2 separate regions of the Homo sapiens genome follow, and region 2 is linked to region 1. The links come from fine-mapping of genetic effects on gene expression. Tissue or cell type: whole blood. Region 1 holds a variant in brackets; the other region holds the start of a gene. All regions are shown on one strand. Distances are from middle to middle.

Region 1 (5,980 bases):
CGGGTGGCAGAGGTTGCAGTGAGCCAAGATCGCCCCACTGCACTCCAGCCAAGGCGACAGAGTGAGACTCCATCTCAAAAAAAAAAAAAAAAAAAAAAAAATTGGGCCAGGCGCAGTGGCTCACAGCTGTAATCCCAGCACTTTGGGAGGCCGAGGCAAGTGGATCACCTGAGGTCAGGAGTTCGAGACCAGCCTGGCCAACATGGGGAAACCCTGTCTCTACTGAAAATACAAAAATTAGCTGAGCGTGATGGTGGGCGCCTGTAATCCCAGCTACTCAGGAGGCTGAGGTGAGAGAATCGCTTGAACCTGGGAGGCGGAGGTTGCAGTGAGCTGAGATCACGCTATTGCACTCCAGCCTGGGTAACAAGAGTGAAACTCTGTCTCAAAATTAGCCGGGCCAGGTGGCATGCACCTGTAATCCCAGCTACTGGGGAGGCTGAGGCATAAGAATTCCTTGAACCCGGGAGAAGGAGGTTGCAGTGAGCTGAGATTACACCACTGCACTCCAGCCTGGGCGACAGAATGAGACTCTGTCTCAAGAAAAAGAAAGAAGTTCAGCCCAGCGCAGTGGCTCACACCTGTAATCCCAGCACTTTGGGAGGCTGAGGTGTATTGGGGGAAATTCAGCCAGATATCGGGCGAAATTCACCCCTGATATTTCACGTAGGTTCTTTTCTGTATTACCTAAGTGTCAGCTGGTCTGAGAAATAAAGGGACAGAGTACAAAAGGGAGAAATTTTAAAGCTGGGTGTCCGGGGGAGACATCATATGTCGGCAGGTTCCGTGATGCCCCCTGAGCCATAAAACCAGCAAGTTTTGATTAGTGATTTTCAAAAGGGGAGGGAGTGTACCAATAGGATGTGGGTCACAGAGACCACGTGCTTCACAAGGTAATAGAATATCACAAGGCAAATGGAGGCAGGGCCAGATCACAGGACCATAGGACCGGGGTGAAATTAAAATTGCTAATGAAGTTTCGGGCACGCATTGTCATTGATAACATCTTATCAAGAGACAGGGTTTGAGAGCAGACAACCAGTCTGACCAAAATTTATTAGGCGGGAATTTCCTCGTCCTAATAAGCCTGGGAGCGCTATGGGAGACTGGGGCTTATTTCATCCCTACAGCTTCGACCATAAAAGATGGCCGCCCCCCAGAAGCAGCCATTTTAGAGGCCTACCCTCAGGGACGCATTCTCTTTCTCAAGGATGTCCCTTGCTGAGAAAAAGAATTCAGCAACATTTCTCCCATTTGCTTTTGAAAGAAGAGAAATATGGCTCTGTTCCACCCGGCTCACCGGCAGTCAGAGTTTAAGATTATCTCTCTTGTTCCCTGAACATTGCTGTTATCCTGTTCTTTCAAGGTGCCCAGATTTCATATTGTTCAAACACACATGCTCTACAATTTGTGCAGTTAACGCAATCATCACAGGGTCCTGAGGCGACATACAGCCTCCTCAGCTTACGAAGATGATGGGATTAAGAGATTAAAGATAGGCATAGGAAATCACAAGGGTATTGGTTGGAGAAGTGATAAGTGTCCATGAAATCTTCACAATTTATGTTCAGAGATTGCAGTAAAGACAGGCGTAAGAAATTACAAAAGTATTAATTTGGGAAACTAATAAATGTCCATGAAATCTTCACAATCCACGTTCTTCTGCAATGGCTTCAGCTGGTCCCTCCGTTTGGGGTCCCTGACTTCCCGCAACAGAGGTGGGAGGATCACGAGGTCAGGAGATCAAGACCATCCTGGCCAACGTGGTGAAACCCTGTCTACTAAAATTACAAAAATTAGCTGGGCGTGGTGGCGCCTGCCTGTAATCCCCCCTACTCGGGAACCTGAGGCAGGAGAATCACTTGAACCCAGGAGGCAGAGGTTGCAGTGAGCCGAGATCACGCCACTGCACTCCAGCCTAGGGACAGAGCTAGACTCCATCTCAAAAAAAAAAAAAAAAAGAAGAAAGAAAGAAAGAAGTTCATGATTTGCACAGAGGTCACGGGGTCCCTAATGATGTGAAGCATGGTCTATGTGACTCCAGATGCTGGCTCTGATGAAAGAGGGCAGCAGGGCTCTGGGCAGTTTAGGGCCGAGGCTCCAGGCCCAGACCCACTAGATCATTCTGCCTGAGGGCGAAGGCTGGCTTCCTGCCTTTCCTACTGAGGGGCATCTGAGTCGCAGCCTCTATCCTCTCTCTGCCTCAACCCAAGGAGACATAGGGGAGGCCAGGGTGCCCACTCAGGGTGGGGAGGCCTGGGTTCCAGCCATACCTTTGCTCATATTTGCTGGGCAACCTTGGGCATATTGGGATTTTATCTGGGCCTCAGTTTCCTCATCTGTCAGTGGAGGAGAGTTGGAGTTGATGGAGTCCAAGGGGCCTCTTGCTCTCCCTTCGCCCTGAGATCCTGTGACCCAGGCCTGGGAGAAGGAAGTGGGCACACCAAGAGTGCTGGGCTGGGATTGATGACAGCCCACAGCCAGGGAAGATTGAAGTCAGAGTTCAGCCCTGCCCTGGCGTATTCAGAGCTGACACAGAGGCCCTATCTCTATCCTCCCTGGCTCCAAGGCAGGGTCAAAACCCAGTTCTATTTTTTGCCCTCAGGTTACATGAGAGCTAGAGGCTGAGCACAGGCATGAGCTCTGGGCATGAGTCTGCACTGGGAAACCTGACCTGTGGGCACCCCTGTGCAGGCCACAGGGCTGTGAAGGTCCTAACCTCAAGGCCCATGCTGCCCCTGCTGAGAAA[G/C]AGTCAGTGCTTCTCACACTGGGACCCAGGCAGCCCCAGCCTGCAGGAGGGGCAATGGCCGGCCAGGCCTCAGGCACTTGGGCATGGAGTGGCATGTGCCTGGCATCGGGCTGCATCTTGACTCCTGCCAGCTCCCTCCTTCCCTCCCTCCCTAGTCTTAACTCCTGACCCCTGGGAGGTTGAGTCCTTGCTCTGGGCTCCTGCGGTATCCTCTGCTCCCCCTATCATGGTTCCAAATGCCATGTATGATCACCACCTGGTTACCTGTCTGCTGCCTGCCAGACAGATTTGGGGCAATTCTATGTTCCTGGAACCTAGCCCTGGGGCCTTGCAGAGGATACATAATTTGTAAATTATAATTTTTAAATTTTATTTTATTATTTTTTTTTTTGAGACAATCTCTCTCTGTCGCCCAGGCTGGAATGCAGCAGTGCAATCTCAGCTCATTGCAACCTCTGCCTCCTGGTTTCAAGCAATTCTTGTGCCTCAGCCTCCTGAGTAGCTGGGACTACAGGCTCATGCCACCGTCCTGGCTAATTTTTAATTTTTTTTTTTTTTTTTTTTTTTTTTTAGAAACAGGCTCACTATGTTGCCCAGGCTGGTCTCAAACCCCTGGCCTCAAGTGATCTTCCCTCCGGGCCTCCCAAAGTGCTGGAATTACAGGTGTGAGCCAACATGCCGACAGATTTACTGATGGCTCTGACAGGCGAGCTGATCTCATAGACTGGTTGGGCTGCCTGATTCAGGAGGGAGTTTAGGGGGCTAGAGGCCCCACTAACAGAGATAGGAGCCCTGCAGAGATGGGGAGGAACAGACTTGAGCCAGGGCCTGAGATAGGCTTTTTTTGCTTGTTTGTTTGTTTGTTTATGAGAGGGTCTTGCTCTGTCATCCAGGCTGGAGTGCAGTGGCTCACTGCGGCCTCAATTTCCCAGGCTCGGGCAATCCTCCCACCTCAGCCTCCCGAGTAGCTAGGACTATAGGCGTGCCTCCATGCCCAGCTAATTTTTGTATTTTTTGTAGAAATGGGGTTTCATCATGTTGCCCAGGCTGGTCTCCAACTCCTAGACTCAAGTGATTTACCCACCTCGGCCTAAAGTGCTGGGATTACGGGCATGAGCCACCACACCCAGCCTGAGATAGGTTTTGAACAAAAGGTTTCTACTGCAGGAGGCTCCAGGAGAGGCACCAGGGCCAGATTCAGACGTGAGTGTACGTGGCTGATGCCAGCTCCATTCCTGAGAGCAGAGTTTGTGGGAGCAGAGGGCAAGTATCCAGAAAGAAGGCTGGGCATGGTGGCTCACGCCTGTAATCCCAGCACTTTGGGAAGCCAAGGCAGGCAGCTCACTTGAGGTCAGGAGTTCGAGACCAGCCTGGCCAGCATGGTGAATCCCCGTCTCTACTAAAAATACAAAAAAAATTAGCTGGGCATGCTGGTGCATGCCTGTCATCCCAGCTACTCGGGAGGCTGAGGTAGGAGAATCTCTTGAACCAGGGAGGCGGAGGTTGCAGTGAGCCGAGATATCACACCATTGCACTCTAGCCTGGGCAACATCTCAAAAAAAAAAAAAAAAAAGGCCAGGCACGGTGGTTCACACCTGTAATCCCAGCACTTTGGGAGGCCAAGGTGGGTGGATCATGAGGTCAGGAGATTGAGACCATCCTGGCTAACACAGTGAAACCCCGTCTCTACTAAAAAATACAAAAAAATAGCCAGGTGTGGTGGTGGGCACCTGTAGTCCCAGCTAGTCGGGAGGCTGAGGCAGGAGAATGGCGTGAACCCGGGAGGCGGAGCTTGCAGTGAGCCCAGATAGCGCTACTACACTCCAGCCTGGGCGACAGAGTGAGACTCCGTCTCAAAAAAAAAAAAAAAAAAGTATCCAGAAAGAGGAGAGCCCAGGCAGCTGTTGGCAGGGCCAGCGACTTCCCTCCTTCTTGGGCCAGTTGTAGGCCCAGGGAGCCTGCACAAGGAGAGGGGTTATGCCATCCTCCTACCCACAGAAAGGGTGGGAAGTGGGGCGCCAGCCTGCTGAGCTTGCTCTCAGCTGGACTCCCCCGCCCGTCCGCATCACAGAGCAGGCGGACTCAACCCCTCTGAGCTCTCAGGCTGATGGGGGAGATGCACTCAGATATAGAGATCATGATGGCAGAAAAGAAGTTCTAGAGTCAAAGTGGTCACACGTGTTGGGGAGCGGTTGCTTCTTCCTGGGGAGCGCTGAGAAGGCTATCTAGGGGAAGAGACATGCAATGATGATGACAATAATGTAACCATGAGAGCAAACATTTGTTGGGGCCTCCCTAGGTGCCCACACCATGCCCAGCTCTTCATACTGAAGGAGGAGGAAAGGGTGATCTGGGAATGGGAAACAGGCCGTGCCAGGGCACAGGGTGTCAGCCAGCAGGAGCAGGGTGTGGGGATCATGCCAGCTGCCGGGGTGAGCCGGCATCAAGGACATCACACAGGGCATCAGGCCCTGTGTTCAGCACCTCACATGTGAGGGGGCTGTTGCTACCCGAGCCACACGACTTAAGGAGACTGAGGCGTGGAGAGAGGGAGACAGTATCACACAGCCCGTGAAAGAGCAAAAGGGCCAAGCCAATAGCAAGCAGACAGGGTTTAGAGAAGGGTCAGCTGTTGTCTGCATGTGGCAGAAACTTGGGCATGTTCCAATAGAAGGAGAGGTGGCAATGAGGCAGGACAAACAGGCTGACATTTTGGGGTCCCCAGGTAGAAGCCAGTCACCGCCTCTGACAGCGAATGGCTGCCCTTTCCCTGGGCTGCAGGGAGGGGAGGTGGAGGATTGGGTGGGATGTACAATAGGTGTGAGGAGATGGGTGGGAAGTTTAGGACCTTCCTGCCTGGCTGCCTTGCAGAGGGTGAAATTTACCAAAGGTGAAGTTCACCTGAAAACCCAACCGCCTTCTTGTGATGGGACGTTTAATGTGCAAGCCACAGGTAGCTCATAACACTGTTAACTTTCGAGCCTGCGAGCAGGAGGCATTCTGATTATCTGTTCATTTCTAGAAACGCTTGAGCCAGAGGGACTGTTTGTTGCCTAGAGAACAAAGCTAAAACATCGGAATGAAATTGAGAGAGAAATAAAATTTCCTATTCTAAGCATAGCCTATGAGTAAGCATCTCTGTGGCTTTTTGGAAAGTGTGTGTCAGAAAATGCATAGAGGCTCACAGAGGCCTGGGAGGGGACCTGTGTCGACTACTCATCTCTCTCCACT
Region 2 (5,490 bases), 26 kb after region 1:
GCGGCCTGGGTGCCCAGAGCATTCATTAGACTCTCGGACCCTCACTTTCTCAGTCTTAAACAAAGCTGCAAAAACCAGGACATCTTTATACATTCCGCTGAAATAGGGACATTTGGATTTAGATCACACCTTTCAAGGCCAAGTGGCAGTCTTCACCAGGCACGAGAAATGAGGAGCCAAAGTTTTGTTTCCCTGCTTAATATATTTCAGTGGCTATCCACTGTGAGGATAAGATGGAGCCACTTAGTTTGGCTGTCAAGGCCATTTGTGACCTGGCTCCTGCCTGTCTCTCCAGCCTCTTATTAGGCTTCTCCATGCTCTGAAGGGCCTCAGGTGAACCGAGCCACTTACAGTTCCTTAGGGACAACCTGTCCTCTCCAGCCAGTGGCCTTTGCCCCTGCTGATCTCTCAGTCTCTTTCCTTATGAACCCATCAGATCCTGATCTGGTCCATTCAGCAGAGGACTGCAGAAGTCTGAGGAGCCTTAAGATATCAACTTAAAGGTAACTGTTTTAAGGGAAATCTCCTTAGATCACACCCCTCCCTCACGTTTGACCAACTCTGCTCCAGGCTTTCTTAGCCCTATGTTCTCTCCTTCCTAACACTTACTGAAGACGTAGTTTTGCTCCGATCTGTCTGATTATTTGATTAATGTCTGTCTCCCCAAGAGACTGTGAGCCCTTTAGGGATATGATGGTGTCTGTCTTCACTCCCACTCTATCACCAACTAGTGCCAAGCGCTGTGTCCCCACAAGTAGGTGCTTGATAAATATTTGTTGAATGAAGAAATGACTCCCAACAGCTATGACTCTGCCTTCTGAGAGGTTTTCTGGAAAGAATGAGTTCTCTGGCAGCGTGTCTCCAGAATTCCAGGGAGGGGCTGGGTGGGGATGGGGGTGGTTCTGAGGCTACTAAAGAGAAAGACCAAAGGTTGTATAGGCAAATCCTACCTGCCAATGCCCCAGACTCAAATGCATCAGGCTCATTCCCGGAAGGACAGAGAGGGCTGGCTTGCTACAGAGGTGATATGAAGGGCAAAGAAAAAGCCTCCTGAACCCAGATGGAAGTCTAAATGCTAAGGAATGTTCTGGATCCTCGTCATCAGAAAATCCATAGAGAAGTGAACTGATGTCCCCCCAAACCAGTGCCCAGTGGGTAACGGGAATAGAGGAATGTGCTGTTCATTATAGCCACTAAAAGTCTGCAGAAGTGACAATGCTCTTGCAGGTGAGGGTAGTGATGCGAGGAGTCATTTTCATGCTAGTTAAGAAATATCTATCAGGGCTGGGCACGGTGGCTTAAGCCTATAATCCCAGCACTTTGGAAGGCCGAGGCGGGCAGATCACCTGAGGTCAGGAGTTCAAGACCAGCCTGACCAACATGGTGAAACCCCCGTCTCTACTAAAAATACAAAAATTAGCCAGGCGTGGTGGCATGGGCCTGTAGTCCCAGCTACTCAGGAGGCTGAGACGGGAGAATTGCTTGAACCCGGGAGGCGGAGGCTGCAGTGAGCCAAGATCGTGCCACTGCACTCCAGCCTGGGAGACAGCGTGAGACTCCATCTCAAAAAAAAAAAAAAAAAAAAAAAAAGCAATCTCTATCAGGCACTGTATTAGGTGTTGGAGATACTGAAATGTACAAGACAGGCATGGCCCCTTTTCTCAGGGAGCTCAAAGACTAGTGGGAGAAACAGATAGTAAACAGGCAATTACAGGCAGACAGAGCTTGAAAATAGGATAACAGTACCTACCTTAAAAGGATGTTGTGAAATTAAACGAGATAATCCACGTAAAGAGTTTTCTCAGGGCTTGGCATAGAGTAAGCCCTCTCAAAATGATAACTATTTTTCTCGCTTCTGATAGGGAAGTTAAAATGCAGGGCTCTGTGAAAGGGAAGTGTAAAAAAGATTTCTTCCAGGTCGGAGCCTAGGGAGTCGCAAAGACCACCTGAAGAAATCACAAAAGATCTAAAGAACGTTTAGCTTGAGAGGGAGGAGGAGAAAAAAATAGCAACTCGGTAGCAGTTCAGCTTCACCACTTTACAGCCTATGAAGTATTTGGCTTCCCTCATCTGGTTCGATCTTCAAAGCAACCTAATCAGACCGGCGTCTAGAGTTAATATTTCCATTTTACAAAAGAGGAAAGTGAGACACAGCGCGGAAAAGGACTTGTTCAGAACGAGTCATAAAGCAAAGAAGCCGACCTTTATGGTCCATTATGTGTGGGAAAAATGAACAAACACCGCGGGGCGTTCGTGAAATACTAAGTTATAAACATGGAACAAAGTCCAAGAGTTAACGAGAGCGAAGCATCACTTCTAGGGGTGGGCCGGGTAGGTTTCCTAGGGGAGCTGGCATTGGAATAGGCTTCTTCGCCTGCTTAGTGTCAGGACCCCCAGGGTTTTACCTCTCTCCTTCAGGCGGGTGGGCGGGTTCGCTCAGGAAGTAGCCGCTTGGGGAAGCCTTAGGCAAGGTTCTTCGGGAGAGAGACCCGTCATGATCCCGCAGCCTCAATCCCCGCTGGCCTAACGCTTTGGTTTCCATAGCAATGGGCTCGTCGCAGAAAGGAATAGCCTGTGCCGGGTCTTCAGAGAAATCCTGGCCTCGGCTCCACGCCCCTGAGCAGCCCCACCCTGGCTCAACCTGTTACCCGCCCTGCCGGCAAGCCGGGGTCACTGCAGTCCCCGTGGCGAAGCAGGGTCAGCTCAGCTCACCGCACCCCACTCCATCCAGCCCTGCCCATCTCTACGGCAACGGGCCGGGTCGCACCAGGGCTGCAGCCGAGAGACAGTCTCACCGCTTCCGTAGCCGCCCGGGCTCTGTGCGCATGTGCGACACTCCCTCCCCGGCCCCGCCCCCTTATGCGTCTCCCAGGCAACGCGCCGCGCGGGGCTCCAGGTTCCGCCCAGGGACTAACTCCAGGTCTGCGCGCGTCCAACGAGCACGGCTCTCAACCGGCCTCCTGGCGCCCAACGACCATGGCTTCCAACCGGCCTCCGTGCGCCCAACGACCATGACTCCCAACCGGCCTCCAGTTTCCAACTGTTTCTCGAACAGGGAAGCCGCCATGACACAGCTGACTACGCCCTTGGTCACAGGGGACCTGAGATCCTCCACGATTTACGGGACCGGCGCCACCTCGGGCTCGAACCACCCTCTCGATAGGGCCGCCGCTAAGTAATCGGCGTAGGGGTTCAGCCGCACATCTCCTTCCCGCGCCGCGGACCGAGCAGTCGTTGGTGCTCTTCAGGTGCGGCCTGGGTGCCCAGAGCCTTCGTTAGACTCTCGGACCCGCAAGGGAGCCCGAACTCTTTCAGACTCGCTCTCCCTCAGCCGGACCTCGGCCCTTTTTCACACCCCAGGGGAGTCTGGATTTCTCATAGTCCTGGGCACCAGCCCCTTCCCAGTCTAGCTCTTGGGACTCCCTGAAGCCGGAACTCCCTCGCCTGGACTCCCGGGAGAACCTGGAATCCCCATCTCCAGTCCACATTTTCTCAGAATCTGTCCTAGCCCTTCAGTCTCCCAGGCATGACATCGTGTGGTCCCAGCGCCCTAGGTGGTGAGCTGTGACTCTCCTTAGAGCCTGGCGAGGCCGAGGTCCTCCCCAGCTCGAACCCATCCCACACTCCCCTTCTCAGCCTCTGTGTTCCCCAGTGGTCCTGGAAAAGCCCCCAGTTCCCTCTGCCTGGCCCCAATCCTCACAAACCCAATTACCCACGCTCCTTTCCATTCCATAACCCCCATCACTGCATCCTCCAGGCTCCCATCCATGGAGGACTTGAGGTGGAAAGCAATTTGGTTCAAAATAACCATTATTTATTACTTGAAAGGGAATATTTCCAGTCGTTGCCAGCCTCCTCCCCTTCTAGTATTGGTAAATTTTTTGCACCACTGAGTGGGTGAAGAGTTTTATGCGTCTTTAAATGTTTTAAGGATTTTTTTAAAAAAACAAAAAACTCTCAGGATTTGGGGGACTTTTGTGTTTGAGCATCTTGATCTCTAAACCAGCTTTTTCCATCACCTCACACCTAGGCTATGCATAGAGGTCAGAAAAATGTAAATGAGAGATTGAGAAGTTGGATTGTTCATACTAGTTTGTAAATATGAAAACATTCACAACACTCCAGTTCCAAATAGGCTGAAAATGCATTAGAAAAACTAGTCCTTCAATATTTTTTATCCTTCTACAGTTGTCTTTTTTGACCCAATTATAAAAGTAGTGTACACTTATAGAAAAATGAGGACAGGCATGGTGGCTCACGCTTGTATTCCCACCACTTCACTTTGAAACGCTGAGGCAGTTGGATCACCTGAGCTCAGGAGTTCGAGACCAGCCTGGGCAACAGGGTGAAACCCCATCTCTACCAAAAATACAAAAAATTAGCCGGGCTTGGTGGCTCACCTGTGGTCCCAGTTACTCAGGAGGCTGAGGTGGGAGGATCACTTGAGCCTGGGATGTGGAGGTTGCAGTGAGCTGAGATTGTGCCACTACTCTCCAACCTGGGGGACAGAGTGAGACCCCGTCTCGAAGAAATAAAAAGAAGACAAGACAGGCCAGCAGCATAAGTGGCTAGGGACAATCACTGTTAACATTTTGGTGTATTTTGATCAGAATCCATTCATATATATATATATATATATATATATATATGTTACAACATGCTTATACTTAAAAAAGATACATCACAAAAGTTCACTTTTTAGTAACCTGCTTTTTTCTCCCATCTAATATACCACCCGTCTATGTTTCATACACAATTACATGTATTTTATTTTATGACATACCAAAATTTATTCAATTGCTTCCATACTGTAGATTTTGTTTCCGCATTTTAGAAAGAAAATATGAACAATTTTTTTTTTGAGACAGAGTCTAGCTCTGTGGCCCAGGCCCGAGTGCAGTGGCACAGTCTTGGCTCACTGCAACCTCTGCCTCCTGGGTTCCAGTGATTCTCCTGCCTTAGCCTCCTGATTAGCTGGGATTACAGGTGCTCACCACTACACCCGGCTAATTTTTGTATTTTTAGTAGAGATGGGGTTTCACCATGTTGGCCAGGCTGGTCTCGAACTCCTGACCTCAAGTGATCTGCCCACCTTGGCCTCCCAAAGTGCTGGGATTATAGGCCTCAGCCACTGTGCCTGATCCTGAAGAATTATTTTTAAATGGGCAAAACCATTTAAAGGTATTTATTTGTAAGACTACTTCATGGTGTAACCAAATTATCAAAAAGTGAAAATGCAGTGCTTAGAAGTATATCCACTCTTCAGCATTTCCTCATTTTGACCAGATTGTTATATTTTCACCTGGAGTACCTAGCTCCATTCTACCCCACCCCACCCCATGTTTCACCTCACCTTTCAGAGTCTCCTAAAACCCCTGTCCACCCCACACCTCCCTATTCTAAATTTTCCCCAAACCTTCTTCTGGAATTCCCCTATTAACCAGCCTAACATCTGTCCAAACTCTTACTTTTATTTCTCCCTGCTCTGAT

The links. PIP is the estimated chance that this variant, and not a neighbour inherited with it, causes the effect.
Region 2: it holds the start of DUSP18, and the variant in region 1 is fine-mapped to the expression of DUSP18 in whole blood (TOPMed, PIP above 0.99).

Annotation. Positions count from the first base shown.
Region 1 is chr22:30,638,426-30,644,405 of GRCh38, forward strand. All of the region lies in intron 1 of SLC35E4 (solute carrier family 35 member E4), which reads left to right. Among named protein-coding and RNA genes, the nearest start is that of SLC35E4, 5.6 kb to the left of the region's middle. The variant G/C (reference allele first, on the strand shown) is at 2,750.
Region 2 is chr22:30,665,057-30,670,546 of GRCh38, forward strand. DUSP18 (dual specificity phosphatase 18) reads right to left here and starts at 2,819. Exons shown (of 2, transcript NM_152511.5): 1 at 2,406-2,819. It also overlaps a transcript of SLC35E4 not described here. RefSeq lists an enhancer at 2,917-3,306.